Homo sapiens: one gene and its partner. The protein of the gene in region 2 purifies or fractionates together with the protein of the main gene of each other region. This does not show direct contact. Each region holds a gene or a part of one and is shown on either strand. Other genes may lie near its edges. The genes, in order: ATAD3A and AFG2A.

Evidence for each region.
Region 1: the proteins of AFG2A (region 2) and ATAD3A purify together in Homo sapiens (affinity purification with mass spectrometry; 2 studies listed by BioGRID and IntAct, with this or other methods). This does not show direct contact.

Annotation. Positions count from the first base shown.
Region 1 is NC_000001.11:1,499,768-1,515,221, forward strand, and holds the start of ATAD3A (ATPase family AAA domain-containing protein 3A), read left to right. Parts: upstream 1-12,394; 5' UTR 12,395-12,501; coding exon 12,502-12,706; intron 12,707-12,762; exon of another isoform or gene 12,763-12,923; intron 12,924-15,454. UniProt on the Homo sapiens protein: Essential for mitochondrial network organization, mitochondrial metabolism and cell growth at organism and cellular level. May play an important role in mitochondrial protein synthesis. May also participate in mitochondrial DNA replication.
Region 2 is NC_000004.12:122,912,712-122,928,789, forward strand, and holds the start of AFG2A (ATPase family gene 2 protein homolog A), read left to right. Parts: upstream 1-10,366; 5' UTR 10,367-10,431; coding exon 10,432-10,594; intron 10,595-14,922; coding exon 14,923-15,047; intron 15,048-16,078. Other genes in the region: NUDT6 (nucleoside diphosphate-linked moiety X motif 6), read right to left, coding at 4,790-4,993, 9,624-9,861. UniProt on the Homo sapiens protein: ATP-dependent chaperone part of the 55LCC heterohexameric ATPase complex which is chromatin-associated and promotes replisome proteostasis to maintain replication fork progression and genome stability.

The DNA of each region.
Region 1 (15,454 bases), on a different chromosome or scaffold from region 2:
ATTTTTAGTAGAGATGGGGTTTCACCAGGTTGGTCAGGCTGGTCTCGAACTCCCGACGTCAGGTGATCCACCCACCTCGGCCTCCCGAAGTGCCGGGATTACAGGCGTGAGCCACCGTGCCCAGCCTTTTTTTTTTTTTCTTTTTGAGACAGAGTCTTGCTCTGTTGCCCAGGCTGGAGTCGTCCAGTGGCACGATCTTGTCTCACTGCAACCTCCGCCTCCCGGGTTCAAGCCATTCTCTTGCCTCAGCCTCCCAAGTAGCTGGGACTATAGGCACAGGTGGACACGCCCGGCTAAGTTTTTGTATTTTAGTAGAGACGGGGTTTCACCATGTTACCAAGGCTGGTTGCAAACTCCTGAGCTCAGGCGATCCACCCGCCTCAGCCTCCCAAAGTGCTGGGATTACAGGCGTGAGCCACCGCACCCGGCCTACACTGATAACTTATAGCAAACTTTACTTTTGTTGAAAACCTTGGGAGTTTGGGATTTTAATTATCCTTTGTGGCCGGGTGCGGTGGCTCACGCCTGTAATCCCAGCACTTTGGGAGGCCGAGGCGGGCAGATCACGAGGTCAGGAGATGGAGACCATCCTGGATAACACGGTGAAACCCCGTCTCTACTAAAAATACAAAAAAATAGCCGGGCGTGGTGGCGGGCACCTGTAGTCCCAGCTACTCAGGAGGCTGAGGCAGGAGAATGGCGTGAACCCAGGAGGCGGAGCTTGCAGTGAGTCGAGATTGCGCCACTGCCCTCCAGTCTCTGGGGGACAGAGCGAGACTCCGTCTCAAAAAAAAAAAAAAATTATCCTGTGCTATTAATAAGACTTCATTCAGTCTAATATATATATATATGTATAAATGTATATATAAATGTGTATATATATATAAATGTATCAGCCACTTCAGGCAGGGCGCAGTGGCTCATGCCTGTAATCCCAGCACTTTGGGAGGCCGAGGCGGGCGGATCACGAGGTCAGGAGATCGAGACCATCCTGGCTAACAGGGTGAAACCCCGTCTCTACTAAAAATACAAAAAAAAAATTAGCCGGGCGTGGTAGCAGGTGCCTGTAGTCCCAGCTACTTGGGAGGCTGAGGCAGGAGAATGGCATGAACCCGGGAGGCGGAGCTTACAGTGAGCCGAGATTGCGGCACTGCACTGCAGCCTGGGCGACAGAGTGAGACTCCTCTCAAAAGCCACTCCAAAGGCATACTTAGAATTGGTATAGATGGTTCCTTCCTGGTTCTGTAAGTACTTGAAGGCTTGGCTGAGTGCAAACAGCTCACATGCTTGAGCAGACCAATTATTAGGAAACTTTATTAACTCTATTTTTTTATTTTTTGAGATGGAGTCTTACTCTGTCGCCCAGGCTGGAGTGCAATGGCGTGATCTCGGCTCAGTGCAACCTCCACCTCCTGAGTTTAAGCGATTCTCCTGCCTCAGCGTCCTGAGTAGTAATTACAGATACTCGCCACTACGCCCAGCTAATTTTTGTATTTTTTTTTTTTGAGACGGAGTCTCGCTCTGTCACCGAGGCTGGAGTGCAATGGCACGATCTCGGCTCACTGCAAGCTCTGCCTCCCGGGTTCACGCCATTCTCCTGCCTCAGCCTCCTGAGTAGCTGGGACTACAGGCGCCTGCCACCACGCCCAGCTAATTTTTTTATATTTTTAGTAGAGACGGGGTTTCACCGTGTTATCCAGGATGGTCTCGATCTCCTGACTTCGTGATCCGCCCGCCTCGGCCTCCCAAAGTGCTGGAATTACAGGCGTGAGCCACCGTGCCCGGCCTAATTTTTGTATTTTTAGTAGAGGCAGGGTTTCACCATGTTGACCAGGCTGCTCCTGAACTCCTGACCTCAGATGATGCACCTGCCTCAGCCTCCCAGAGTGCAGGGATTACAGGTGTGAGCCACAGAGCCTGGCCTCTATTTCCACAAGAGTTTTTCCTGTTAGTTACTCATTGTCTTTTTCCTTGAATCACCTGGAAGTAACTATCTTCAAATAAGTGTCATCCCGTAATGCACTACGGCAGTCCGTGGGTTACTACATTAAGGATAGTTGTCAGTGGCCTCCATGCCTTTGGGTAAGTTTTTTTTTGTTTTTGTTTTGTTTTGTTTTGTTTGTTTTTTTTGAGATGGAGTCTCACTCGTCGCCGAGGCTGGAGTATAGTGTCACTGTGTTGGCTCACCGCAACCTCCATCTCCTGGGTTCAAGCAATTCTCCTGGCTCAGCCTCCCGTGTAGCTAGGATTACAGGCGTCCACCACCATGCCCAGCTAGTTTTTATGTTTTTAGTAGAGATGGGATTTCACCATGTTGGCCAGGCTGGTCTTGAACTCCTGACCTCAGGTGATCCGCCTGCCTCGGTCTCCCAAAGTGCTGGGATTATAGGCATGAGCCACCGCTGGCCTCTAGTATAGGTTTTAAATTTACTCTGGCTTTTTTTTTCTCTCTCTTTTTTTTTTTGGAGATAGAGTCTCGCTCTGTCGCCCAGGCTGGAGTGCAGTGGCATAACCTCGGCTCACTACAACCTCCGCCTCCCGGGTTCACGCCATTCTCCTGCTTCAGCCTCCTTAGTAGCTGGGACTACAGGCGCCCACCACCGCGCCTGGCTAATTTTTTGTATTTTTAGTAGGGACGGGGTTTCACCATGTTAGCCAGGATGATCTCCTGACCTCGTGATCCACCCGTCTCGGCCTCCCAAAGTGCTGGGATTACAGGCATGAGCCACCGTGCCCAGCATTTTTTTTTTTTTTTTTTTTTTGAGACAGAGTCATGCTCTGTCGCTGAGGCTGGAGTCCAGTGGCACGATCTTGTCTCACTGCAACCTCCGCCTCCCGGGTTCAAGTGATTCTCCAGCCTCAGCCTCCCAAGTAGCTGGGACTACAGGCACAGGCCGACATGCCCGGCTAATTTTTTGTATTTTAGTAGAGACCGGGTTTCACCATGTTGCCAAGGCTGGTCGCGAACTCCTGAGCTCAGGCGATCCACCCGCCTCGGCCTCCCAAAGTGCTGGGATTACAGGCATGAGCCACCGCACCCGGCCTACACTGATAACTTATAGCAAACTTTACTTTTGTTGAAAACCTTGCGAGTTTGGGATTTTCATTATCCTTTGCTATTAATAAGACTTCATTCAGTCTAATATATATATATATAAATGTATAAGCCACATCAGGCCGGGCACAGTGGCTCATGCCTGTAATCCCAGCACTTTGGGAGGCCGAGGCAGGTGAATCACGAGGTCAGGAGATCGAGACCATCCTGGCTAACAGGGTGAAACCCTGTCTCTACTAAAAATACAAAAAGTAGCTGGGCGTGGTGGCGGGCACCTGTAGTCCCAGCTACTCCAGAGGCTGAGGCAGGAGAAATGGCACGAACCCGAGAGGTGGAGCTTGCAATGAGCCGAGATAGCGCCACTGCACTCCAGCCTGGGCGACAGAGCGAGATTCCGTCTCAAAAAAAAAAAAAAAAGTAAAAGCATATGTATCATGATAAAATGGACACTTTACCCATCGCCTGACTTTGTGTTGAATTGGGCAAGAGCCTCCTCCCGTCCACGTGGGATGGCCTTCCTGATGTGGCTCTCCAAGACCATCCCTGGAGGGCATAAAACCTCACAAATGCATCAGGCCGTGTGCTGGGGATGGGGCATCGTCACGCCAGGTCTGACTAGGAAGGAGGATGGGGAGGCAGGGCTGGGGGCTTTGAGGTCGAGGCGTGGCCGTGGATTCCAGAAAGCCCCTTGGCTGGTGTGGTGCCTGCCCAGCGGCATCCGTGTATCCTAACACCCGCCCTCTGTGCCCCTGTGCCTGCAGGCCACATCAAAGGACGCCCTGAATGTGGCACAGATGCAGGAGCAGACGCTGCAGTTGGAGCAACAGTCCAAGCTCAAAGTGAGTGGGGCCGGTGTGGGTGGGGAGGCCGGGGCGCACATGGGGTTCGGGCATGGAGATTGGTAGGGCTACTGCCGGTGGGTAGGGCTGGTGGCATGTACATGGGCAGCAGTGGGGTGCAGGGCCGAGCTTGGGCGCCTCATTTCACAGAAGGAAACAAGGGGAGGTGAGAGACAGTGCCGCAGAGCCTCCCGAGAGGGAGGGCCAGTGTTGGTGAGGGCGTCTGGTTGTCCGGAGGATGGGGATCTTCTTGACATTCTCACCTCATTTCTTTTCACTCAGCAGAATTTTTTTTGCATTGCATTGCATTGCATTGCATTTTAATTATTTTATGTATTTATTTTGAAACGGAATCTTGCTCTGTTGCCCGGGCTTGAGTGTCGTGGTGCGTTCTCGGCTCACTGCAATCTCTGCCTTCCAGGTTCAAGTGATTCTCCTGCCTCAGCCTCCCAAGTAGCTGGGATTACAGGCACCGACCACCACACCCGGCTAATTTTTGGATTTTTAGTAGAGACGGGTTCACCATGTTGGCCAGGCTGGTCTTGAACTCCTGACCTCAAGGGATCTACCTGCCTCGGCCTCCCAAAATGTTGAGATTACAGGCGTGAGCCACAGTGCCTGGTCCCTCACTTTCAGTCCTGAGTTCACAGGCGGGGTTCACATGTTGCCTGTTGTGGGCATTGTAGCTTAAAAATTTAATTGGCAAGGCCAGGTGCGGTGGCTCACACCTGTAATCTCAGCTCTTTGGGAGGCCGAGGTGGGCGAATCATCTGAGGTTGGGAGTTCGAGACCAGCCTGACCCAACATGGAGAAACCCCATCTCTACTAAAAATACAAAATTAGCCGGGCGTGGTGGCGGGCGCCTGTAATCCCAGCTACTCAGGAGGCTGAGGCAGGAGAATCACTTGAACCTGGGAGGCGGAGGTTGCGGTGAGCCGAGACCACGTCATTGCACTGAAGCCTCAGCAACAAGAGGGAAACTCTGTCTCAAAAACAAAAAAAAAAAGAGAGAACAGGAGTGTGGTCGACTGCTGGGCCTGCCATAACCACTGGGGCGTGTGTGCCCACAGCTCTGAAGACTACAGGCCCAAGGTCAGGGTGCCAGCTCAGTCCCTCCCTGTGGAGTGTTCTTTGCTGGGTCCTCATGTGGCGGAGAGAGTGACTGAGCTCTCACTCTGGTGTCCCTTACAAGGATGCTCATCCTGCACTGCTCACAGTGGTGGTGGTAAGCCACCGCGCCCAGTGCCAACTTTGTCCTTCAACAGTTTGTGTGTGTGTGTGTGTGTGTGCGCGCCAGGCACAGTTGTAGGATCCAGCTCCACAGGTTCGGTGGGTTTTCTCTTTGTGTGCAGAGACAAGAGAGTGTAGAAATAAAGACACAAGACAGAGATAAAAGACAGCTGGGCCCGGGGAACCACTGCCACCTAGACGTGGAGACCGGTAGTGGCCCCGAGTGCCAGGCTGCGCTGTTATTTATTGGATACAAGACAAAGGGGCAGGATAAGGAGTGTGAGCCATCTCCAGTGATAGGTAAGGTCACGTGGGTCACGTGTCCACTGGACGGGGGCCCTTCCCTGCCTGGCAGCCGAGGCAGAGAGAGGGAGGGAGGGAGAGAGAGAGACAGCTTACGCCATTATTTCTGCTTATCAGAGACTTTTAGTACTTTCACTAATTTTGCTACTGTTATCTAAAAGGCAAAGCCAGGTGTACAGGATGGAACGTGAAGGCGGACTAGGAGTGTGACCGCTGAAGCACAGCATCACAGGGAGACGGTTAGGCCTTCGGATAACTGTGGGCGGGCCTGACCCTCCACAAGAGGTGGAGGAGTAGAGTCTTCTCTAAACTCCCCCGGGGAAAGGGAGACTCCCCTTCCCAGTCTGCTAAGTAGCGGGTGTTTTCCCTTGACACTGACGCTACCGCTAGACCACGGTCTGCTTAGGTCACGGGTGCCTTCCCAGGCGCTGGCGTTACTGCTAGACCAAGGAGCCCTCTGGTGGCCCTGTCCGGGCGTAACGGAAGGCTCGCACTCTTGTCTTCCGGTCGCTTCTCACTATGTCCCTTCAGCTCCTATCTCGGTATGGCCTGGTTTTTCCTAGATTATGATTATAGAGCGAGGATTATTATAATATTGGAATAAAGAGCAATTGCTACAAACTAATGATGAATGATATTCATATATAATCATATCTAAGATCTATATCTGGTATAACTATTCCTATTTTATATATTTTATTACACTGGAACAGCTCGTGCCCTCGGTCTCTTGCCTCAGCACCTGGTTGGCTTGCCACCCACACACAGTGGCTCATGGCTGTAATCCCAGCACTTTGGGATGCCAAGGTGGGTGGAGCACCTGAGGTCAGGAGTTCGACACCAGCCTGGCCTAAATGGTGAAACGCTGTCTCTACTAAAAATACAAAAATCAGCCAGGCATGGTGGTGTGTGCCTGTAATCCTACCTACCTGGGAGGCTGAGAGGCAGGAGAATCACTTGAACCCAGGAGGTGGAGGTTGCAGTGATCTGAGATCGTGTCACTGTCTTGCAGCCTGGGTGACAGAGTGAGACTCCCTCGCAAAAAAATAAAATAAGTTTTTTTTTTCCCTTTGGCAATTCAAGATCCCTAGAGGTTCCATATCAACGTATTAATGCTTTTTCTATTTTTGTAAAAAATAATTCGGGTTTTACAGGGATTGCATCCAGTCTCTATATTGCCTTGACGTCTCTTAGCAATGTTGTCTGGTTTTCTTTTTTTTTTTTTCTTGAGATGGAGTCTCACTCTGTCACCCAGGCTGGAGTGCAGTCGTCGGCCAGGATGGTCCCAAACTCATGACGTCAGGTGATCTGTCTGCCTTGGCTCCCAAAGTGCTGGGATTACCGGCGTGGGCCACGGCGCCCGGCCAGTTTTCATTGTACAAGTCTTTCACCTTCTTGGTTAAGTGAATTTCCAAGTATTTTATTCTTTCAGATGCTATTGTAAATGGAAATGGTTTCATAATTTCCCTTTCAGATTATTCATTGTTAGTATGTAGAATTGCAGCTGTTTCTGCTGTTGATTTTGTTTCCTGTAACTTTGCTGATGTCACGGGGTTGTTTTTTCCAATATGGATTCTAGGATTTTCTTTTTTCTTTTTTTTTTTTTTTTTTGATATGGAGTCTCGCTCCGTCACCCAGGCTGGAGTGCAGTGGCACAATCTCGGCTCACTGCAAGCTCCGCCTCTTGGGTTCACGCCATTCTCCTGCCTCAGCCTCCTGAGTAGCTGGGAATACAGGCGCCTGCCACCATGCCCAGCTAATTTTTTGTATTTTTAGTAGAGATGAGGTTTCACTATATTAGCCAGGATGGTCTCGATCCCCTGACTTCGTGATCTGCCCGCTTCAGCCTCCCAAAGTGCTGGGATTACAGGCGTGAGCCACCGCCCGCGCCCAGCAGGATTCTAGGATTTTCTACATATAAGATTATATCATCTGAGAACAGGTGATTTTACCTCTCCCTTTTCAGTTTGGATGACTTCTTTTTCTTCTCTAATGGCCCTGGCCACAACTTCCAGTGGTATGTGGAATAGAAGCAGTAAAGCATTCTTGCCTGGTTCCTTACTCAGAGGAAAAGCTTCCAGTTTTTCACCACTGAGTATGTCACCTGTGGGCTTGTGATATATGGCCTTCATTATGTTTAGGGCGTGTGTTTCAATTCCTGGCTTGTTGAGTGTTTTTCTCATAAAAGGGTGTTGAATTTGGTCAAATGCTTTTCCTGCGTCAGTTGAGAGGGTCATGTGGTTTCCTTCTTCCACTCTGCTAATATTGATTGCTTTTTGTATGTTGAACATTTCGTATGTGGAACATGATTTTCGTATGAACTATCCTTGCATTCCAGGAATAAATCCTGCTTGGTCAGGGTGTATAATTTTTTTATTATACTGCTGAATTCACTTTGCTGGCATTTTGTTGAGGACTTTCCCAGTGATGCTCATCAAGGATATTGGCCTGTCATTTTTCTTGTGGCATCTTCATCTGGGTTTGATATCAGGGTACTGCTGGCTTCCTAGGATGAGTGAGGAAATGTTCTTCAATTTGTCCAGGAGTTTGAGGAGTGCTCTGATTCTTAATGTTTTGTGAATTCACATGTGAAGAAATCAGGTCCAGGTCTTCTCTTTCAACTTTTACAGCTTGGAGATTTTAGGTTCCCAGAAAAATTGCAAGGGTAGCACAGAGAGCTCCCGGGCCTGGGGCCTCGCCACGTGGTGAACGTCATGTGTCACTGTTGGCCCCACCCGCGACTGGGTCTTGCCCCAGAATCCCACCCAGGAGGCCACGTGACATTTAGCTGTCACTTCTGGTGGGCTCCTGCCAGGTCCCGTGCTTCCCAGAGGGGTGGCCCCGTGAGCATCTGCGTAGCCCCTTTCCTCTGCTGGGCCCTGGGTGAGGTGCAGCCACTCGGGTGGACCCTGAGGGTCCCTGCACCTGTTTGCCCTCTCTTGGGTGGGCTCAAGACCAAAAATGATGTTGAGCAGTCCTGGGCCCCTGAGCCACAGTGGCGGTACGGCTCCAGTCAGTGTCTCCTGCGCTCCTGGGCCCCTGACCCACAGTGGTGGTCCAGCTCCGGTCAGTGTCTCCCCACACAGTGGCTCTTGGCGAGGGATGGGCGCTGGCAGAGGGGACGGGCACCACGTGGTCATCCCCATGGCAGGTTCTATCGTGGCGACGGTGTTGTGGGAGGATGGTGTGCTGCTGCCCCTGCACCCCGTGAGATGAATCCTGCCTCTGGGAGGCATAGCTGGGATGGGGCTAGGGACCCGCTCAGCTGTCCGGGAAGGGTCCCCTGCCCTGTGCTTCCTCCAGGCGTCCTGGTGCCCTCCTGAGCACGGCGCCCAGTGGGGGTCCCCACACCCTGACCCTGACCCACGGGTGACTCCCTTTGGGGACTCCATGCCCTTTTCTGGCATTAGGATGGAGAGTGACCTGTCTGGCAGAAAGGCTGGACCTGAGGCTGCCTGAAGCGACACCGAGGGCCACAGCCCCAGCAGCTCCAGCCTTCACATGCTAGATGCCAAGCCCTGTGCCCAGGAGGACAGGAAGGTGGGGCAGGGGTGGCCTTGGTGCCACCAGCCACGTGCCTCAAGGTGGGCAGTGGCTGCCTCTGCCCTGGAGGCCTGTGAGGGTCAGGGTCTGAGGGTCTGAGGTGCACTATGACCCGGGGGCACTGCCTGGCCACGGCTGAGACACGCAGAGGGTCTGCAGTTCCCACCTGCCTCTCGGAAGCTGCCCTGGGTCGGCCGTCAGTGAGGCTCCGCCTTGGGCTTTCTATTATTAGAAAGTCATTGAGCAACAGCAGTGCTGAGGACGCAGGCAGGGCTGTGGGCACTGCAGGGGCTGCCCCCGGTGTCCACACACGTGCTGGGCTCTGCCGAGGTGCGGGAAGCCTGTGTTTCACGCTCAGGCCATCCTGGAGCCCCTGGTTTGGTCCCTCCCCACCTCGGGGCCCTGGCGTGCATTTGGGGTGGGGGGTTCCCATGGCGGCCTCCCTCAGCTCCCTCTCTCCCCACTAGGCCACGGCGTATGCCTCCGAGGACGGGGTCCTGACCGAGGCCATGATGGACACCCGCGTGCAAGATGCTGTCCAGCAGCACCAGCAGATGATGCGCTGGCTGAAGAGGGGGAGGCCTGGGCCCGAGGACGAGCAACCCTCATCCTGAGTCCATGGGGAGACCACACCTCACGGAGCCTGGCCGCGGACCCCTCCCACCCCTGCCTTTGCGGCCCCGCACATTTAGGAAATACTCCCCGTAATAAAGTCCCACGGGGGCCGCACCGCTGTGTCTATTGGCTGGGGCGGGGTTTGGGGCCCCCTAACGTCCCCCTGGGGTCAAAGGTGACAGAAAAGGCAGAAGCTGGGGCTTTCTGGAGGATTTAACCACAGAGGGGTGGGCTGCACAGGAGGTGCCTGCCACGGCAGGGCCGGGTGCCCGTGCCCCATCCTGAGGCCGTGCATACGCGGGTGCCCTTCGCCTCCCTCCCCTCCGCCAGAGCTGCCTGTGGCCAGACACACGGTGGAGGGAAGTGCACGCGAAACAGACACAGCGGCTTCAAATAGATGCCGCCCCTGCCCGCGCTTTGCAGCTAGTCCCTGCAAACCTTGATGATGGGGCTGGGCGCGGTGGCTCACGCCTGGAATCTCAGTGAGGCCAAGGAGAGTGGATCACCTGAGGTCAGGAGTTCCAGACCAGCCTGGCCAACATGGTGAAACCCCATCTCTCCTAAAAAAAAAAAAAAAAAAATTAGCCGGCCGTGGTGGCAAGTGCCTGAAATCCCAGGTACTCAGGAGGCTGAGGCAGGAGAATCACTTGAGCCTGGGAAGTGGAGGTTGCACTGAGCTGAGACCATGGAATTGCACTGCAGCATGGGCAACAAGAGTCAAACTCCCTCTAAAAAAAAAAAAAAAAAAAAAAAGGGCCAGGTGGCACATGCCGGTGGTCCCAGCTTCTTGGCTTGGAGGCTGAGGTAGGAGGATCGCCTGAGCATGGGAGGCAGAGGTTGCAGTGAGCTGAGATCGCACCATTGCACTCCAGCCTGGGTGACAGAGTGAGACCCTCTCAATAAATAAATAACCAAAACCTTGATTACAGCCATGGGGTGGGGGTGGGGGGACGTCTGGCTATTGCTGGGGAAGTCATTTGGTTTTTCTCCTCCTCTCCTATTTTTTTGGTACAGACGGGGTCTCTCTTTGTTGCCCAGGCTGGTCTCCAACTCCTGGGCTCAAGCAATCCTCCTGCCTCGGCCTCCCAAACTGGCGGGGTTACAGGCGTGAGCCACCGCGCCTGCCCTGTTTTCTTTTTCTTTTTTTTTTCTTTTCTTTTTTTTTTGGCGATGGAGTCGTGCTCGCCCAGGGTGGAGTGCAGTGGCCTGATCTCGGCTCACTTCAACCTCCACCTCCAGGGTTCAAGCAGTTTTCCCGCCTAAGCCTCCGGAGTAGCTGGGATTACAGGCGCACGCCACCATGCCCAGGTTAATTTTTGTATTTTTGACAGGGGTTTCACCATGTTGGCCCGGCTGGTCTCAAACTCCTGTTTTCAGGTGATCTGCCCACCTCGGCCTCCCAAAGTGCTGGGATTACGGGTGTGAGCCACCGCGCCTGGCCGGCATTTTCTGGCTTTTTTTTTTTTTTTTGACAGAGTCTGACTCAGTCGCCCAGACTGGAGTGCAGTGACGAGATCTCGGCAGCTCACTGTGTTATATGTAAATTTTCTGTGCCGCCAAAGAAGTAGAACTCGAATATAAATTTTTCTCAGCTAGATAATTTACTTCTATAGAAGGGGACATCTCATAGATGGAGCAATGGCGAGCGCTTGGACAAGGGAGGGGAAGGGGTTCTTATTCCTGACGCGGGTAGCCCCTACTGCTGTGTGGTTCCCCTATTGGCTAGGGTTAGAATGCACAGTCTAAACTAGTGCCCATTGGCTATTTTAAAGGGAGCAGGAGTATGGGCCAGAGTGGCGGGGTGAGTGGTTTGGCGGGAAAAATGGTTATGGGACAGGTAACTAAAGGTGACTCAGGTCAAAGCAGGAGACCGGGATTAGTTAGGACGGAGCAGGTGACCAGGGCAACAGATGTCAACTACTGACTAGAACTGGTGGAAAAGGTTGTTTACTGAAACTGCGAGGAAGGTAGACTTTAAAATGCAGGACAAAGACTGAACATACTGATATACTGATTCTTTGAAGGGAAGTTTAGAACTCATTGTATCTAACATTATTCAGGCTTAAAACAGTTTCCAATCCAGTGGGAAAAGTCACTCCATATATTCCGTGAAGTCAACCAGTTCCATCAAGGAGAAAGTCAGGGCCGCTGGGAGCGCGTGGACCGTGGGCTCCGGGGCGGCGCCTGCCCGGGCACCCCGGCCCCGTCCACGCCCCGCAAGAGGAGCTCGCTGGCCCCGCCACGCGGGAAGGGGTCGCCCCGGGGTCTTGGGCGGGAGGGCCGTGCGGGCTGCGGAGACACCGAGGAGGGGAGGCGCCTCTCCTGAGCTCTTGGCGCAGCGACCCCAGGGCGCCGACTCATCGCGGAAGGGCTCGGCTTGCCCGGGCGCCGGTGCCGCCTCGGGTGAGGTTCCCGCGAGACTCTTCTCTGCGTCCTGGACTCACCGCAGGGCGCCCCGCCGCACGGATCGAGAACCTTGGGGCTCCCTGGAAACTTGCCACCCGCTGCCGCCAAGGCCGGAACTCCTCGGAGCCCCTAGCAACGGAGCCCCTAGCAACGGAGCCCACGCGGATGCGGCGCGGGGCTGACGCTGCCTTGGGTTCGCCTACGTCCCTCGGGAATTTTGTCCCGGCGTGGCTCCCGTAGCCAGATGCTTCGCCGCTCCCGCCCCGCTGGCTCCCAAAGCCTGTTCGGCAGTCGCGGCGCCGTCGCTATGGCGTCACTGTCCTCGGGGCCAATCCAAGGGCTGCGCGCGTGTCCCTTACGCGCTTCTATCGCCGGGAGGAAGGGGTGTGTGTGGCGCCTGCGCAGTGGCGGTGACCACCGGCTCGCGGCGCGTGGAGGCTGCTCCCAGCCGCGCGCGAGTCAGACTCGGGTGGGGGTCCCGGCGGCGGTAGCGGCGGCGGCGGTGCGAGCATGTCGTGGCTCTTCGGCATTAACAAGGGCCCCAAGGGTGAAGGCGCGGGGCCGCCGCCGCCTTTGCCGCCCGCGCAGCCCGGGGCCGAGGGCGGCGGGGACCGCGGGTTGGGAGACCGGCCGGCGCCCAAGGACAAATGGAGCAACTTCGACCCCACCGGCCTGGAGCGCGCCGCCAAGGCGGCGCGCGAGCTGGAGCACTCGCGTGAGTGCGGCGGGGCGGGGCGGCGCGGGCGGGCGGGCGGGACGGGCCGGGGAAGCGGGAGCCCTGGCCCTTGCCGCTCCTCGCCGCTGTCGGCAGCCACTTCCCGGGCGAGACTGCGCCCCCGGAGCACCCCCGGCCGGAGCCGTGTCGCGTGCCGGGAGGATCGGACTCTTTCCGTCACCCGTTTGCACCTCTGCAGCTGTCAGGAGCGGGTCAGGTGCGGAAAGCGGTGCGGAGGTGGCGCTCATAGGTTACAGGGGTCAGGGTCTGGGGCTGGCCGTGGTCTTCAGTTACCGCCGAGCGTGCGGGATCCTTCTGCGCTTGCCGCCTCCACGTGGCACAGGCCAAGGCGTGGCCAGATGGGTAGATGGGTTTGTTGGGTGGTTGCTAGCAGTTTCCACGTAACAAGGGAAGCGTATTTGAGAGTTACTTGATTCTAACGAGACTAGCAGATTTGCACTTCTTGTTGGAAGACGTTAGCATTTGCACGGCGAGGTCTGTGAAGCCACAGGCCAGGCCGTGCTGCTCAGCTTGAGTAAACCCCTGACCCAAGGCCCTCAGGGTGTGAGCACTCACCATGTTGTTCAGGCTGGTCTTGAATTCTGGCCTCAGGTGATTCGCCCACCTCGGCCTCCCAAAGCGCTGGGATGACAGGCGTGAGCCGCTGCTCATGGCCTTCCTCGGTAATTTTAACCATCAGGTTAGGATGGGAATCAAGGGCTGGACTTCAGGGCACCTCGGAGGACAGCGGATGTTGGTGACTGACTTTCTTGCTGCAGGCTTATTTGGAGGGTTCCTTTGTGTCCTAGTTCCTGGGGGTTTTCACCCGCTAACTTCACTTAGAGATTGAAACTTCTCCCACTTCCAGAAGCTGAATCGTAGTGATCAGCCTGCGGCCCCCTGCAGTGGTACAGGCCTGGTTGAGCAGCCTCAGGCCGCCTCCCCATAGTGCAGACCTGTGCCTCTGAGTTGCTCCAGTCCTGGCGGCCCCGGAGCTCCTGACCCGCAGTCCGCTCTGCCGGCGTTGCCAGTGCCTTGGTCTGCCCTCTCTGTGGTGGAGCGGGGCCCGGGGCAGGGTCTCCAGGTGCACCGTGGGGAGCCCTCCATCAGGCTTTTGTTTCCTGTGGATTGTGTTCCAGGTGTGGGCTCTTTCATTCTGATCCCTTCCCTCCTTCCTGGCCTCACTGCTGGCAGGTGAGAGAGGTTTCTCCAGAGTTGACTGCCCCCTTTCCCCGGGTGCCCCCTGCCCTGCCCCTCTGCCTGGTAGCCCCTCTGCAAGCCCGGCCCCTCCCGACGCTCCTGGCTTCCTCCGTGCCCCTTTCCTGGCAGCGGGTCGCCGAGATTCGGCCGGAGCCCATTGCTTTGTCCTTGCTGCTCTCCAGGCAAACGGGCGGCTCCTCCTCACCGACTGCCTCCTCTGTCCCTTGAGGCTATAGCCCCATGCCGCCTGGTTCCCAGAGTGCCCTGACCCCTCCTCCGGCCTGTCCTTGGAAGTCACAGCAGTACATTATCCCAGAACTGTCTGTGAGCACCAGCGCTCGCCCTGCACTCCACAGAGGGGGTGCCTGGAGGAGAGCCTCGTGCCCTGTGGGTGTGAATTCACGCGCTGGGACGCACGTCCCTGGCACAGGGTCACACCAAAGTGGTGAATGATTGTTCTCACTCTAATAACCGAGAGGCCACACGGGCACCTGACCTGCTCTTTCCCCTCTCCTCCTCCCCAGAGTCACTGGGGGTAGGAACTGTCAATGAGCCATTTTCAGGGGAGGGAGTGGCCTCAGCTTAATCCAGCCAAAGGTCCCCTCGGGAGGAAACAGGCAGAGCTCCTCACCGTGACACCCACGTTCCTGTCACTGCTCTGTGGCAGGACCCTGGGTGACTGACACACCCTCAGTCCCCTCGGGGTCAGAGTGAGAGTGGTTGAGAGCCCGGGGTCGCTTCAGCCCTTGGCTTCCCGAGCTTAGCAGCCAAACCCGTTGACCTGGCACTGTCTTCCCTGAGAGGCAGGTCCCGGTCTCATCTGTGCTCTGTTCACTGGGGCCCCCGAGGTTAGCTACCAAGGCGCTTCCTGAAATCTGACACTGATGCCCGTCAGCCCAGTTCGTGCCTAACCACAGGCCCAAGCAGACCCACCCCAACACCAAAGCGTCGCTGCCTCTGTCTAAATGCAACGAGTGCTCCCCACGGCACTTCCCCCTGCGTCAGTCACCTCCAAAAATTACACCTGAGCTGAGAACAGACGCTGGGCTCTAGTTAGTGACGTGTTTGCTGCAGTTGACTCTGAAGGCTTAAAAAAGTGAGACGGGCTGCGGGAGGAAGAGAGACGGGAACAACGCACCAACCCAGGAGCATCGGGGGTCCCTGCCTACTTTACGTGTCTTTCTGTGTTAGCAGATTTATATGTTTATTTATTTATTTGAGATGGAGTTGCCGTCCGTCGCCCAGGCTGGAGTGCAGTGGTGCAACCTCGGTTCATCGCAACATCCACCTCCTGGGTTCAAGCAGTTCTCCAGCCTTGGCCTCCCAAGTAGCTGAGATCACAGGCGTGCACCACTGTGCCCTGCTCTTTTTTTGTCTTTTTAGTGGAGACAGGGTTTCGCCATGTTGGCCCGGATGGAGATTTTTCTTTTTTAAGTCTCTCTCTGTCTAGCTGGAGTGCAGCGGTGCGATCTGGGTTCACTGCAGCCTCTGTCTCCGGGGTTCAAGCCATCCTCCCACCTCAGCCTCAGAGTAGCTGGGATTACAGGC
Region 2 (16,078 bases):
ATTCTACCCATACTTGAAGCCTTGGTTCAAATACAGGTTGAGTATTCCTTATCTAAAATGTTTCAGAGCAGAAGTGTTAGATTTTTCTGGATTTTGGAATATTTTCATATACATAATGAGGTATCCTGGGGATAGGACCCAAGTTTAAACATGAAATTCATTTATGTTTCATATACACCTTATACTCATAGCCTGAAGGCAATTTTATACAATATTTTAAATAATATTGTGCATGAAAACAGTTTTGACTGCATTTTGACTGTGACTTGTCACATGAGGTCAGGTATGGAATTTTCCACTAGTGGCATCATGCCAGTGCTCAAATACTTTTGGATTTTGCAGCATTTTGGATCTTAGATTTGTAGATTGGGGATGGTCAAGCTGTACCACCACCTCATCCATGAAGACACTAAGTGCCTGTCTTAGTCCATTTGGGCTGCTATAACAAAATAACCACAGACTGGATAGTTTATAAACAACAAACTTATTTCTCACAGTTCTAGAAGCTAGGAAGTCCAAGATCAAGGTGCTGGCAGATTCAGTGTCTAATAAGGGCTCATTCTTTACAGACGATGCCTTCTAGCCCTGTCCTCACATAGTGAAAGGGGCAAACAAGCTCCTGTAGGCCTCTTTCATAAGGACACTAATCCCATTCATGGGAGCTCTGCCCTCATGATCTAGTCACCTCCCAAAGGCCCCACCTCTTAATACCATCACATTGGGGATCAGGTTTCAACATATGAATTTTAGGGGGAACAAACATTCAGACAACAGATGTGCTTACAATATTTATTGAATAAATGAATTGACTTCTCATTTTTATTCCTTGAATCACTATGCATACAACACAGGCTGTGCCCCCTGATGATCCAAATCTCAAATATCTCAATATTCATTTCAAGACCTTTCTGAAGCCAATTAAATTTTCTTATTATGTATATACACAACTTTATAATCTACTAATATACTGCTTTGGAAGAGTTCTTTGTTTTATATATGTTTTAAGTTCTAGTTCATTTTTTTTTGTTTATTCATTCATCATACACATTGCATATTCTCTCTTTCTTTTTAAAAATATTTCCCTTTGGGCAATCTTGGGTCAAAAATACAAATGACGTATTAGTGATTTTTATTATGATCTTTTAGATGTTATGATTTAAACATTACTTGTATTTAAATAATGTGGGATGACATTTTTTAAAAGATACTTTCTACATATTTGTCCATGCTTTCAGTATTAACTGAGTTCCTCTATATAATGTACATAGATCCTGTGCATATTAATTGAGCTCCTACTATGTGCCAGGCACTTTTCTAGGTGCTACAGATACAGTGGTGAACAACACAAATGAAACTCCCTATCCTTATGGGGTTCACATTCTGGTATGTGTGTGGGGAGGCGCCAAAACAAACAAAAAATAAATTATATAGAATATTAGAAGGTGATAAATGCTATGTAGAATATAGAGAAGGAATAAATATGTGTAACATGGGGAAAAGTAATTGAAATGCAATTGAAATGAAAACACCACACTTGACTATTTTAAAGCAGGAAGGAAAATCACCAAGTGAGATATAATTAACATTAATGTTGGCTTCTATTAGAAAATGTAAGCTATAATTTAACTGGACTTTACAAGAGGTAGACTGCCAAAGAAATGCCAAGGAAACTTACTCTTAAATTTTAATAATTTGTGGTTACTCAAATTGAACTTGTCCCTAATGAATTCACTGTAAACATGAGCACAGTATCAGAGACAAAACCAGCACCACTAAAGCACAATTTGAGCGACCTCTGCTGGTCACAACATAAAAATTATTATTATGATTAGGCACTGTGCTTCAACGTACATTAGCTCAGGTATAAGTCACAATAATCCTGTGAGTGATATGAGTGTCTGGCTTCATATAGCTCTAACTGGTAGAACTGGGACTGATAGCCAGTCTGTCTGGATTCTAGGCAGGCACACTCTTCTCACTGTGCAATGCTGCCCCTCAACAATACTGAAACTTCTCTCTCAGAAGACTCACATTTCCATCCCATTCATTAAAAAAATATTGAATATCTACTTTATGTCACTCGCTGTCTTTAGCTTGAGGATATCGTGGTGACCAAGACAGATAAAATATCTGCCTTTATGGAGTTTATATTATTGTGGGGGAGATTAAGTGATACAATATAATTAATTTACATACATGATATAATAGAGTTTCAGACTGTGATAAATGCCATAAAGAAACATAGAGCTGGATAAAGGGACAAGGAATGATGGCACTAGTGTGCAGGGAGAAGTCACTTCTAACAGAAGGGTCAGGGGCTTTTCTGAGAAGGAGACACTTGAGCAGAAACTTCGGCTATGAAGAACTAGATAAAGAAAGTTCTGGAGAAGCATGCTGCAGGAAGAGGAGCCAGTAGATGTCAAGGCTCTGAGTCAGACACAAGCTTGCTAAGTTTGAAAAGCAAAAGAAAGCAATGGCTCCAGCTATTCCAGCCACATCTGCCTTCGGTAGTTTATAACAAATGCCAATTATTTTTCTTTCCACCTAAAAACTCTGCACCCCAGCCTGGGCAACATGGCGAAACCCTATCTTTGCAAAAAATACAACAATTAGCCTAGCATGGTGGCGCATGCCTGTAGTCCCAGCTACTTGGGAGGCTAAGGCAGGAGGATCACTTGAGCTAAAGAGGTGGAGGTCGGAATGAGCCCAGATCATGACACTGCATTCCAGCCTGGGTGACAAAGTGAGACCCTGCCTCAAAAAAAAAAAAAAAAAAAAAAAAAAAAACAACTCTGCACCTTTCCAGAACAATTTCTTACATTACCTCGTCCACACCCCCAACAGTGGCTTCAAATCCTAGTTAGTGTTCAAGATTGGTCAAGTTCTGCATCTCTTATTCTTTGAACTGCTCTGACACTCTAAACTATAATGTACAATATACAATATAGTACTTAGTTATCAACAGGCCCTTCATAGGATACTCTTTTTGCATATATTACCAATTCTGTAGTAATAACTGGGAACTCTTAAGAGTCTGTGCCCGTGAATGATAATTATTTGCATAACTTTCCATTGAAGTGTGAGGCTGTCACTAAATTATTGAGTAGAATCTTTTGAAATAGAGCTGAACGGAGAGTTTCTGAATGTCTACTTGCTACAGGGAAGTAAGACAGGGACAGAGAAGACATCATTAGGCATTCTTGAACAACTCCTTGAAAAGCCTTGAAAAGCAAACTACCTTAAAAACTCTTGTAAATTATATAAAGGCAAATAAAATTATTAATTAAATAACTAATATGCTTCATTGCTTTCATTTATTAAGGTCATAAGGATCCCTTACTATTATAGTTTTTCTAGAAATCTAAGAATTTTGGTCCTTAAAGGGTAGTACTGAGACCACCACCAGCAGCAGCAGCAGCAGCAAAAACAGAAACAGCCAGGAAGATCACCTGAATTTTCAGGTCCCACCATAGACCTACTGAATCAGAAACTCTGGGGATAGGGCCCAGCAATCTGTTTTAAGATTCCAGGTGATTTTGATGCAATCTACAATGTGAGAATCTGTGTCTTACTCTGAGGGAAGTCTTCTCTCAACTTTCCTATGTCTCTGAAGCTAATCAGCCACTTCAAAATTCTACTCTACACTTAAATTACACGATTTTAAACAACTGTTTGGCACAATAATGTAAATATTATTAAGAAGTAATTGTTCAAATCATTGAAAAATTGGTTTGCTTTACCTGAAATTCAACATAAAAATGATCATTTACTTTACAAATTTACATAATTAGTGCCAACATGTTTTACTCTGCAATAAATTTATTCCCTGATCCCAATTCAGTGCTACTATTTGAGTAGTGAAGTTTAATTATATGTGTAAAATATATTCAAGCATATCCTTTGGAAAACTAAACACTAAAGTTGTTCTCTGTGCGTCTGTCTACTGATTGAGGCAAACTTCATCTATTTAAAAGCACTATGTAATAGTCCTATTTAAAAGCACTATGTAATAGATACTGTAGTCCCCCTTGTCCAGTTTTGCTTTCTGTGATTTCAGTTATACAAGGTCAACCATAGTCTCGAAGTGTTACATCACTACTCTTGTGCTTCGGGGCATTAATAAGGAAAATAAGGGTTATTTGAATCCAAGTACTGTGATACTGGGACAGCTGATCTGATAACAGGGAAGGCTACTAAGTAACTAATGGATAGGTAGCCTATGGATCATGGATACACTGGATATGGGGAAGATTCACGGCCTGGTGGGACAGAGCAGGATGGTGAGAGATTTCATCACATTACTCAGAACAGCATGCAATTTAAAACTTAAGAGTTTTTTTCTGGAATTTTCCATTTAGGTCATAATGCCTGTCATTCACCTCACTTCACCTCATCGTGCAGGTGAATACAAAAGGGTGAATACAAAACAATATTTTGAGAGAGACCACATTCACATAACTTTTATTACACTATACTTTTATAACTGTTCTAATTTATTGTTAGTTACTGTTAATCTCTTACTGTGCCTAACTTATAAGTTAAACTTTATCATAAATATGTGTGATAGGAAAAAACATGGTATATATACATAGGGTTTGGTACTATCTGCGGTTACAGGTGCCCACTGGGGGTCTTGGAACACATCCTGTGCAGATAGGGTGGAACCACCGTAATCATTTAATCAAATAACTCATTCCACATGAATAAACTATTTGCTTAGCTGTAACAAGCAAGAAATTGGGTGAACGTCTAAAAAGTTAATTCTGCTCATCATGAGTTTGAAACTGACCTGCAACTCCTACTTGATGTGAAGCATATCCTGGTAATCTGCTGGGCCCTTCTCTCAGCCACAGAGTCAACGTTGATGAATCCGATTCTGCGTGGTGAAAGCAGAAGCCCAGGGAAGCAGCAGGGGCAATAAATCGGCTTTGGAGGATGGGAATGTGCAGCCATACAGCTGTTCTACCTTCTGATCGCCATTGCTGTACTGCAGCTAAATGCAGAAGAAAAAAGTCTAAATAATTTCCAAAGAGACGAGTGGAATAAATTAAAACTCACCTCAGGGTTTCGCCTCCTCCAGGAAACCATCTTTAAGCAAAAGAGGTCCCCAAATGTCTTGTTCACATCGCTGGCACTGGAAGTACCATGTTTTATAGTAACCACCTTGTTTATATGATTTTTCCATCAGACTGAATTCCTTCAGAATAAAGTCATTACACTGCTGACCTTTATATCCATACCACCAAAGACAATGCTTGGCACGTAACAGATGTTCTGTAGTTTTAGAGTGGACAAATAAAAGGATTTAAACCGAATCAAATACCATTTGAATGCTGTTCCTTTTAACATCCTTAGGTTTAATCTTAAAGACAATTATGGACTTCTATTTTTTTCTTCCTTTAGGAGTTCTGTTATAATGTTTTTAATGTATAAATTTCAAGGTAGTTAAACTTTGTTTTTAAATAATGTATGCTGGTTGTAGAAATTTTGAAAATAAAAAATATGAAGAAATCAAACTTCACATTTTACTAGCATATAGGAATAAAATTCTAATTTTTCCTTATTATAGATAATATCATGGTGAACATAATTATAGGTTTTCTATCTTTGCCTTCTTTAAATTCTCTTTACTACTTAAGATTGAGCCAGGGGAAAAAGATGCTAATATCTATTTGAAACTTACTAAGTTCCAAGCACTTTATATATATTATCTCATTAAGTGCACAACCATGAAAGGTATTACTACCTTAAGTTTATGGGTGAAGAAATAAATACTTCAGATTTAGAGTTTTTAGAAAAGCTTTTCAGATCACTTTCTTCATCCATCATCTCACTTAATCTTTATAATAACGCTATAAAGCGTGTGTGTGTGTCTGTCTTTGGGGGTTGATTATATATCAAATAGTTAATTAACTTTCCCTTCTCTTTTCCCTAGCTCTGCAGGAAGCTCCTCTCTTTAAGGACAATGTTCTCTACCTCTTTGAAAGTTGCTGTGCCTAGCACAGTGACAGGCACATGGGGCCTTTAATAAAGACTTCCTGATTTGAGTTAGCATGCAGTGGAATTATGGGATCAGGTCCTTCTCACCTTGCTCTCTTTGTCTGATGACATCTTTTAAAAATTGAGGTAAAGTACATAAAGTGAAATGTACAAATCTTAAGTGTACATTTCATGCGATTTGACATATGCATATGCCCGTAACACACTTTAACATTATAGAACATTTCTATCACTCCATACATTTCACATGTGCTCCTTCCCAGGCAATCCTTCCAATCAAATTAAAAGGCTACTTTCTAAAAGCAATGCTATTTGCTTGCTGTTTTATATCTACACTCTGTGTCTTGGAGAATCCACTCTCACTGCTTCAGCTGATACATACATGAGGATGGCTGCCCAGCCCTGACCTCACTGAACACTAAACTTTCTGTTCTCCAGTTGCTCCCAGACATTTCCTGTCCTGAAGGTTACCACTTCAGACTTCACAAAGTGTGTTCAAAACTGAATCTTTTGTTGTTGTTGTTGAGACGGAGTCTTGCTCTGTCACCAGGATGGAGTGCAATGGTGCAATCTCGGCTCACTGCAACCTCTGCTTCCTAGGTTCAAGCGATTCTCCTGTCTCAGCCTCCCAAGTAGCTGGAATTACAGGTGCGTGCCACCATGCCCAGCTAAGTTTTGTATTTTTAGTAAAGACGGGGTTTCATCATATTGGCCAGGATGGTCTTGATCTCTTGACCTCGTGATCTGCCCGCCTCGGCCTCCCAAAGTGCTGGGATTATAGGCGTGACCCACCGCGCCTGGCCAAAACTGAATCTTACACCCCAAACTAGCTTCATTTATAAGCTTATTTATTTCTGGCACCAATGCTTGAAACCTTAGAATCATTTTTAAATTGCTTTCTTCTTTTCCCTAATAAGCTTTATTGCTTTTTCTTCCCTCACCTCCCATTCCCATTGCTAATATCTATCCTTTAAAGTCCAGCTCATATTCCACATCTTTGACCAGTCTTTCCTAACCACTGCTCATGAGCTCACCATTATGAATTTAAAGACTACTATGTCTGTACAATTTATTAGAACTTATTACATATGACCTAATGATATCTCTTCCATTAGCTATTTTTTCCAATTCTATTTAATATTCCATGCATTTGCAATCCTCCAGGGTAACCCTACATTATGCACTGGGGCTCAATTTGTACTAATGAAATGACTGGCTTGCCTAAAGTCACATAGCTGGTGAGTGGCATAGCAGGGACCAGAACCAGTGCTATTTCATTACTGATGCAGATATGTTATGTGTGAAGCTAACAACATATTGCCTGTTTATCCCTCTAACTTCAGTTGTTGGTAACAAAACATCAATAGTTCATGTTCTAAAAGAATATGAATAGTTGACTTCTTATTCCACCAAGAATATGGACTTCTTAGTCCATAAAGACTAAGAATAGCGGACTTCATGTGTAAATAGTCTCTCTTTATAGGCACTACCATTCAGTTAGTTTTGTTCAATTATAACAACAGAACCAGCAGGAGTTCTTCAAGGTAGCATAGTGCAGTAAGAAAGGTGTAGAGCCAGGGCAAGTAAATTTTTCTCTCTGTGCCTCACTACTGTCATCTTTAAAATAGGAATAATAATGCTATCTACCTCAAAGGGTTGTTAGGAGGATTAATTACTATTTATAAAGATCCTAAAACATCTACCATTAAGTGCAACAAAATTTGTTTTATTGAAAAAATATAACAAGTATTTGGTACTTAAGTTTACAAATTAGTTTCATCTTTGATCAACGCATCTATCCAGTAATTAGAGCTGGCGTTATTCACAAAAAGCAAGCTAAGAAGCAAATATTTTTGGTGGCAATTTGCCTAATGCCTGGCTAAGCACATGGCAGAACCTGGTACTTAAACCCAGAATGTGCACCTCCAAATCGCACAGCTTTCTGCTTTGTCATGCTGACTGGGGTAGTGCTTTGATCACCTGTTTGGTCATTGATAAGTATCAGTGGGTACAACACCTGTGTCTACCCACACACTGGAAGATAAAACGATTGATTCTCCTATTAGTGACACTGTTGCAGTATAAGCGGGCTTGTCAGCAATTACTAGCAAGTAGGAGAGAAAATAATGTGAAGAGGTAAGAAGTCTGGGAATGAGGATGAGTAAACATTGAAATAACTAGCTCAATTATATTTACAGATATGCTTCTTGCCATATTGCTCAATAGGATAAAGATTATTTTGAGTTTCCAGTGTGAGAGATTTTTCCATAGTTGAATTTGCATGCTATGCCTTCAATTAGATTATAAAACCCTCAGAGGCCGTTTGAAAAACTGCTGCACCACTAAATCGACTTCTTCCAAAGTGAAGGCTCCTCCATCCAAGCTTTCTTATCATTGGGCTCAAGGTTGAAAGCCAGTAAAAAGTTTTCTTATTGAAGACTGAAACCACCCACCACCGTCCCTGGTTAATCATAAAAGAAGCGTTATTCTAAAAAACTCCAGTTCTCGCTGAGACAGCTGTTGACCCAATTTGTATACAAATGTGACACTCTGAACCTCTCTGGTTTAGTATTTGATAGCCCAACAGGGTGACTATATTCAATAAAGATTCAGGCTGGGTGCAGTGGCTCCTGCCTGTAATCCCAGCACTTTGAGGGGCCAAGGCGGGAGAATCAGTTGAGCCCGGGAGACTGAGACCAGCCTGGGCAACACAGTGAGACACCGTTTCTAGAAAAAATAGAAAAAAGCCAGATGCGCGCCTGTAGTCCTAGCTACCCAGGAGGCTGAGGTGGGAGGATTGCTTGAGCTCAGGGGTTGGAGGCTGCAGTGAACCCTGATCCTACCACTGCACTCTAGCCTGGGAGACAGAATGATACCCTCTCTCAAAAAAAAAAAAAAAAAAAAAAACAAACTGTACATTTAAAAATAACTAAGAGTAACTGGATTATGGTTGAATGCTTGTGGTGATGAGTATCTCATTTACCCTGATGTAATTATTACACATTTATACCTCTATCAAAATAGCTCATATACCCCATAAACATACACACCTACTATGGACCCACAAAAATTAAAAATAAAAAAGAAAAGCCTCTTTGGTCCACTCAGTCCACCACCCGTATTAGAATGTAAGAGTTTTTTTCCTTGGGAAAAGTGTCCGACAGAACCAAGGCTCGGTAAAGGATACTAATAATGTAATAATATAATATTAACAAACATCTACTGAGCTTTAAATACGTGGCAGGCACTGTGCTGTGCACTTTATGTGCATTATCCAAATTAACTCTCAGTAATTCCAGGAGTTCTTATCACCGGGGTCTGTGGAAGAGGAAATGGTGGTTTACGGCAATTTCCGAATGTCGCACAGTAGAAAGTGGACCAGCAACCAGGGTTGCAGATCCCAAAGTCCGGGATCTTCACCATTTCACCCAACCGCCTTAGAGACCTCCCAGCAAAAGGTCTAAGCACGAATGCTCCAGAAAACAGGTCCAGGTCACGCGTGCCTTCTCCCTTTCCCTCTGGGCTCGACAGTGGTGCACAGAGCGACTAGGGAGTGGGGGCCGCGGTTATTTCATTAGAAAAGCTCTGGAGCCCCGGGAGCCCTTCGTCCCAGGCGCACTTGCCCTGCAAGCCCTTCTGGAAGGCGGCAGCGTCCAGGCGGTCCAGCGCATCGAGCCGCGCCAGGCGCACCGAGATGCCCCCGAATCTGTCCAGCTCGCCCTGCAGATCGCACGCTCCAACTGGCGGATTCCGCACGTAACCCTGTGCGCCCGAGGCCCAGCGGTAACCCGCCGAAGGCCCGGGGCCGTAGGTTCGGGCAAGCATCGCGCGCCAGCGGCCCCAGCTCAGTGGCTGCCGCATCTCCACGCCGCTTAATTCGTCCGTTGCCCAAATGACCCCTCCGCGCTCCAGAGCGGAGATCGCGGCCGTACATTTTAGAAGAGTGCCATCAATACCCTCAGAGTTGAGCTGGGGTTACCACTCTGCAGAGCTATGCCAAGGAGACCGCGAAGTGGTCCACCAGCCCTTCTCAGCAATTTGCCCCGCTCCAGTTAAGCGGGGAAAACCTCCTCCCCCACCGCCACTCACTTATTTTGTTTGGTAGTTTAATTCAACAGACGTTGGTTTAGGGATGGGGAAGCCGGGAGGAGATGCAAAAACGTCCTGTTTTTCAGGAATTTACAATCTAAGTGGCAGTTCCGTTCCTGGAACCTATCTTCTTTCACAGATGCCGTTACAGCTGTTTCAAAGACTGCTGGTTTTGAAAACGCTCAGTCCCTCCCACCACGCTGTGCACTGCTGCGCTCCACTCAGGGGATTACGGCGCAGGGGCGGACCCTCGCTGACTTCTGCCCCGGAAGTTTTTCTCTCAGTTGAAGCGCGCACATTGAGTCGGCTTTTCTACTGCTTCGGCTAGGGTACCTTGTGACCATGTCTTCCAAGAAGAATAGAAAGCGGTTGAACCAAAGCGCGGAAAATGGTTCGTCCTTGCCCTCTGCTGCTTCCTCTTGTGCGGAGGCACGGGCTCCTTCTGCTGGATCAGACTTCGCGGCAACCTCCGGGACTCTGACGGTGACCAACTTATTAGAAAAGGGTAAAGAATTCCGGGTGGGAGACTAGAGGCCGAGGGGGCGCAACCTGAGGGGCGGGAGACTCAGTGATACTGACTTGGGGTGCAGAGACTTTTGAAAGTTGGGCGTGGCATGGGTCTGAGAGCGGCACAGAAGCGTGTAAGACTTCTGTATGTAAGAAGCATGCAAACGTAGCCGCGCCTGCACTGGAGAAGTTAGGCTGAAATGGTTTATCCGTGTCCAAGGTTTCTCTTTTGTAAATTATTTTGAATTTTTAAGTTGCACTTGAAACGCTTTGTCTCATTTAACATTAACGACACATTTAATTGCAAAATTGTTCATAACTAGCGAACATGGGATACTTATCCTAAAAAACTAAATAACCAATTCAGTAAAAATGTGGATCACTCTGCCTTTAGGAGTGATGATAGCATTTTCTTCCAGTACTACGCAGGTTATGATATTTAATAACTGCTAGTAACTGCACACTAGTGTTAGCAGTATATATAGCTCATCTAATTTCTACAGAAGCCGTGACCGATGGGTATAGTAATGACAGTTTTATAGAGGGAGGAAAGTTAACGTGATTCCATTCAGGCTACACAGGTGCTAAGTGGCAGAGCCGATATTTGAGTCCAGATGTGTTTGACTTAAAAGCCATTCCTAGATGACAGCTCCTTTGATTTGGGAGAACGTATTTATACTGAAAAGTCTTATAAATTGAATTAAAAATTGAAAATTTATATTTGATGTGTAATAGCTTTGAAAAATGGACCAGACTAGTGGCAAAAACTTTTATGTCTAATCAGACCTTAAAGACAATTTAGAGTTCACATGGTATTTTCACTCTGCCTTAGGTATCAGAGGACAACTTGTTCTGTCCTGAAGGTTCAACTTGTTTTTGAACTAGATCCTTCCCATTGACATGTAAACATGCTCATTTCTCTTCCATCTTAAATCAGAACAAAAGCTCCACATTTTCTTCCTGCAACCGTCTCTCTATCCATTGCCAAGCTTCTTAAATGGAGTGGTCTCTGCCGCCTCACCACTTACATACTCTCCCTAGCCTATTCCTCTTTGACTTCCACCCCATCATTCCATGGAAACTGTTCCTGGTGTGGTCTCCGAGCATCTCCGTGTTGATAAACCTTACGTGACCACAGCAACTTTTGGTATTGTTGACCATTCCCTCCTTCTCGAAACACTTAACTTCTTATGTGTTGTCAAACTTGCCTGGTTTTCTTCATCTTTGTTGATGTTTCATCATTTTTCTTTGCAGGCTCGTCCTCTTCCCTTGACCATTAAATGTTGAAGTTCGTCAATTCTTAGTCCAAAACCTTTTTTTTCCTCTCAATAAATCCTGTCTCCTTGGCAAGTTCATCCAGTGCCCAGAGTTTCCCATCTATAGTCTCTTCAGTGTCAGATTTATATTTGTAAATCTTTTGTTTTTGCGCCTTGATGTGGTTGCCTTTTAGCCAAATGCTTCTCAAGCTCTCTGTGGTGAAGACTTTAAAATTTATAATAGGTCACAGATCAGCACTTTTCTAAAATACAGTAAAAATGATTTTCTAGAAAAATAAGGAAAAATTTTTATTAAACAGATGTGAAATTACTCTGTAAATTTCAATAAAAGCTTCTATATACTTATTCTCCTGTTTTGTACTTGTCATGAAGCAGTAACAAATCGTTGTGGGTCATATTTTGAATAGCACTGTACAATAACTCTTCTCATGAGTGTCCCAAAGATACTTCAGGACTAACTTCATGAGCCCGTTATTTCCTCCAACAAAATAAACTTCAACTCTGTTCAGTTTTTCCCGCTGCAAAATTCAGAAACCTAAGAGTCATCCATGACTCTCCCCCCCATATCTCACATACCTAGTCCACCACTAAATCATGTTTATTACCTAAATATTTTACATATTCCTCTTCTGCATGCCATTCCCACTGTTTCTACCTTAATTTCAGACACCATCATCTCTCACCTGGACTGCTACAACAGCCTTTTGACTGATTTTCCAGCTTCCAATTTTGCCCCTTATTCCTTTTCCATTCTGCAGCCAGAATGATCTTGTAAGATGAAGATCTTGTCATGACATTGCTTTTCATCCCTTTCTGGGCTCCCACTGCTGTCAGAGTAATGACCAGCATCTTGATGCAGCCTATTGCACTATTGTCCTGGGTGGTCTTGACCTTCTTTACATGGCTTCCCTATGTCTCCACCACTCTGCCTATACTCTCCTGAGGATGCGCCATACCCCCTTCTGCCCAGGAACTTTGTACATGCTGTCCTCTTTGCTGAGAATTATCTTTTTCTTCTCCTCATTTAGTTAGTTCCTACTCTTCTTTCAGACCTGATCTTAACATCACTTCCTTTGAGAAACATTCTCTTATTTGAAATTAGGTCAGATCCCACATGGCTCTCCTGGCACTCTAAGTCATTTTTTCATTGTATTAATCTTAGTTTATTATTTTACAGCTATCCACTGATTGTTTAATAACTCACTCATCCTACAAGGCTATAAACTCTGTGAGACCAAGGACTTGTGAACAAAAGTGCCTAGCATAGTATCTTTCATATAGTAGGCACATAGTACATATTTGCTGAATGAATAAATGAAGGGTGGATGGTTGTTTGAAATTATCTTTACTATCTTGTTAGTTAATGTGATACTTAAGGTGCTCAATAAATGTGAAAGTAGTTAATGGGGAAATTAGATGTTGACATATTTTTAAAGTATTGGAGGAGTGAGGTGAGAAGGGAACTGTGTGGACAACTTGAGTAGACCTATATAGTGTAAGCAGAGAACACGTTGGTGATGTTTTGGAAAATGAGACCAGTGGCTGGGAATTTGAACATGATTACCATTGAAAGACAAGGTGGAGAATAAATCCTGGGACATGGAGAATGTGCTGGATAGGGTGGAAGGAGAAGAAGAAAACTAAAGTCTTGGGAAGGACTGAGAACACTTGTGTGGTAATTGTCAAGAGGGAAAGATAGTTCATTGAGGTTTAGGAAGAAAGAGGCAGGAACTGAATATTATGAGATCATCTAACAGCAGTATGCTTTACTGTTAATGACCAGCAAACAATGTAAGAGAACTAATGCTCATTGGAAGGTTGAATTTCTGTCCAGCTTCTTGTATTATGCAGTATGTGTTCATTTCGTTTTATACTCAGTGCTGTTCATCTTAGCTCTGTGAGATGCTTTGTTTTTCTAGATTTGCACCTCATATAAGAAGGAAAAGAAATGTGTTGGGGAGTTGTTTTGTAGTGACAGAATAATGTAAATCATATGGGTACCTTATGGTTTTCCTTTCCTTGATTTAATTTCTTTTTTATTACAGAATATCTGTTTTCTGATTATTAAGGAAAACTTAGGTAGAGCTCTGTGATTATGGTATATATGTTTACAATAAATTTTATAATGAAGTTGTGACATTTTTAAATTCTCTAAGTGTTTCATAGATTTTGTGCTGAAAAGAAAACCATTGTATACTTATTTACTACATTTATTCATTTTATGGCTATTTATTGTGCAACTGCTATATTTAATGCACTGTAAGCATTGGAGATACAGAGAGAAATAGGACCCAATTCCTGCTTCAAAGCAGTATACAATTAAGGAGAAAGACTAAAACAAATGAATATTATGGTAAATGCTATTAACTGGCAGCACAGAGTGCTGGAGGAATTAGAGGAGGGACACCTAACTAAATATGGAGCTTGGTGGGGGTGGGGTGGATAGAAAGGAGTGGAGATGACAGCACATCATTTTCAGAGGTGTTGTTAACTGGCCTGAATTCTGGACCCCCTTTTTCAGCCAAAAGTTGAAATCACTAGTGGTGTGTGTTCGTATAAGGAAGACGACTTCTGTTACTCTCTTTACGTATTCTTGGTAATACAAAAGAAAAAGATCTGGTGACCATAATGTGGGGCAGAAGTAGAAACATAACTTAATCCTCTAGAGCCAGATAGATGTGCCAGTTCCCAGTTCAATCCTTTGAATACTAGTAGCTGACTCAACTTTGAACTTAAAGCTCAGAGACTCTCTTTTGCAATTATGTTTACTTCTTAATGAAATTAGAGACTCAGAAAAAAAGAAACCAATACTCACCCCATAAAACATCTTCTTTTTAGTTAATACTTAATATGTTGCCAGTAGACCCTCAAAAGCATTTGATTTTAAATCTGTTTTGTTATAACAAAAGTTGGAACACTAGTTTCTCCAGGGTATGGTAAGTACATTCATGTGGTTATATGGTTAGAGTATTTTTATTTACTGCAAAAGAAAGCATGCCTTAACTTCTGTTACAAAGTAGTACAAAAATAATTTTCTTTTCCTTCATAGTAGATGACAAAATTCCTAAAACATTCCAGAATTCCCTTATTCATCTTGGACTCAACACTATGAAGTCTGCAAATATATGTATAGGTCGACCAGTGTTGCTTACTAGTTTGAACGGAAAGCAAGAGGTAAGAGTCTTTTTCATTTCCTTAGTTTAGAAATACAAACTGAACATTGCAAATCCAAGAATCTAAACTCTGAAATGCTTTTGAGTGCCATGGTAGTCAAAGGAAATGCTCATTGGAACATTTTGGATTTCAGATTTGGGATGCTTAGCCAGTAAACATAAGGCAAATATTCCAAAATGGAAAATTCAAAACGCTCCTGGTCCCAAACATTTTGGATAAGGGATACTCAACCTGTGTTTGAGATGTTTCTGATTTTAATTTTCAACACAAGCAGGAATAAATGAAAAACTGTATTTTAAAAGACATTAACATGTATATTAACTCTGTTCCTTTGCTGTCTATGACTCTGCTGGGCATAGTAGCCCCTAAAATGTTATGTAGAGAGAAGTGTTGCCTCCGGCGATAGTGACAGTATTTCTCCCTGTCAGTTAGTTATATTTCTTTATAAAAATATTATTTTGGGGGTAAGAAGGTCACCTGTTCTGTATATAAATATTTTACTATTCTCCCTTGTTTCAGCTGTTTCTCCTTGCTGTCATTTTTCATACCTGAGATTCTAAGCCTGGAACCTTTCCTGGATCATTTTTGGCAGCTTGGCTTTCTTTTCTGCTACCAGCCCCTTATCTTTCATGGCTTCCTTTGATGCTTCTCTGATTTGCTGGGGATCCTTTGGAAATACTTTGAAATTTTTTGTCTGCTGATGGCACCCCTCCTATTCTTTTCATTTTTCTGGCTTATGCTTTAAAGGTCCTTTACTGTGTCTTTTAGAAGAGAGGACTATAAATGTGTGAGCTTAAGCTAGAAATTTTCGCTCCTCCCTCTTAACATTTAAATCTGATAAGACCCAGGTTCTGACAAAGCTCTTGTTCTGTGTCCCTCACTATTTCCTGGATGTAGTTTAATTTCCAGGCTGGATTACTTTACAAGTTATTTTGCCTTAATATTTTTGTCATTTTCTCATTATCACCTGTTAATGCCTTTATCTTTTTTCATATATTTTTCATATCTTCTACCGTCTTCACTGTGGGATC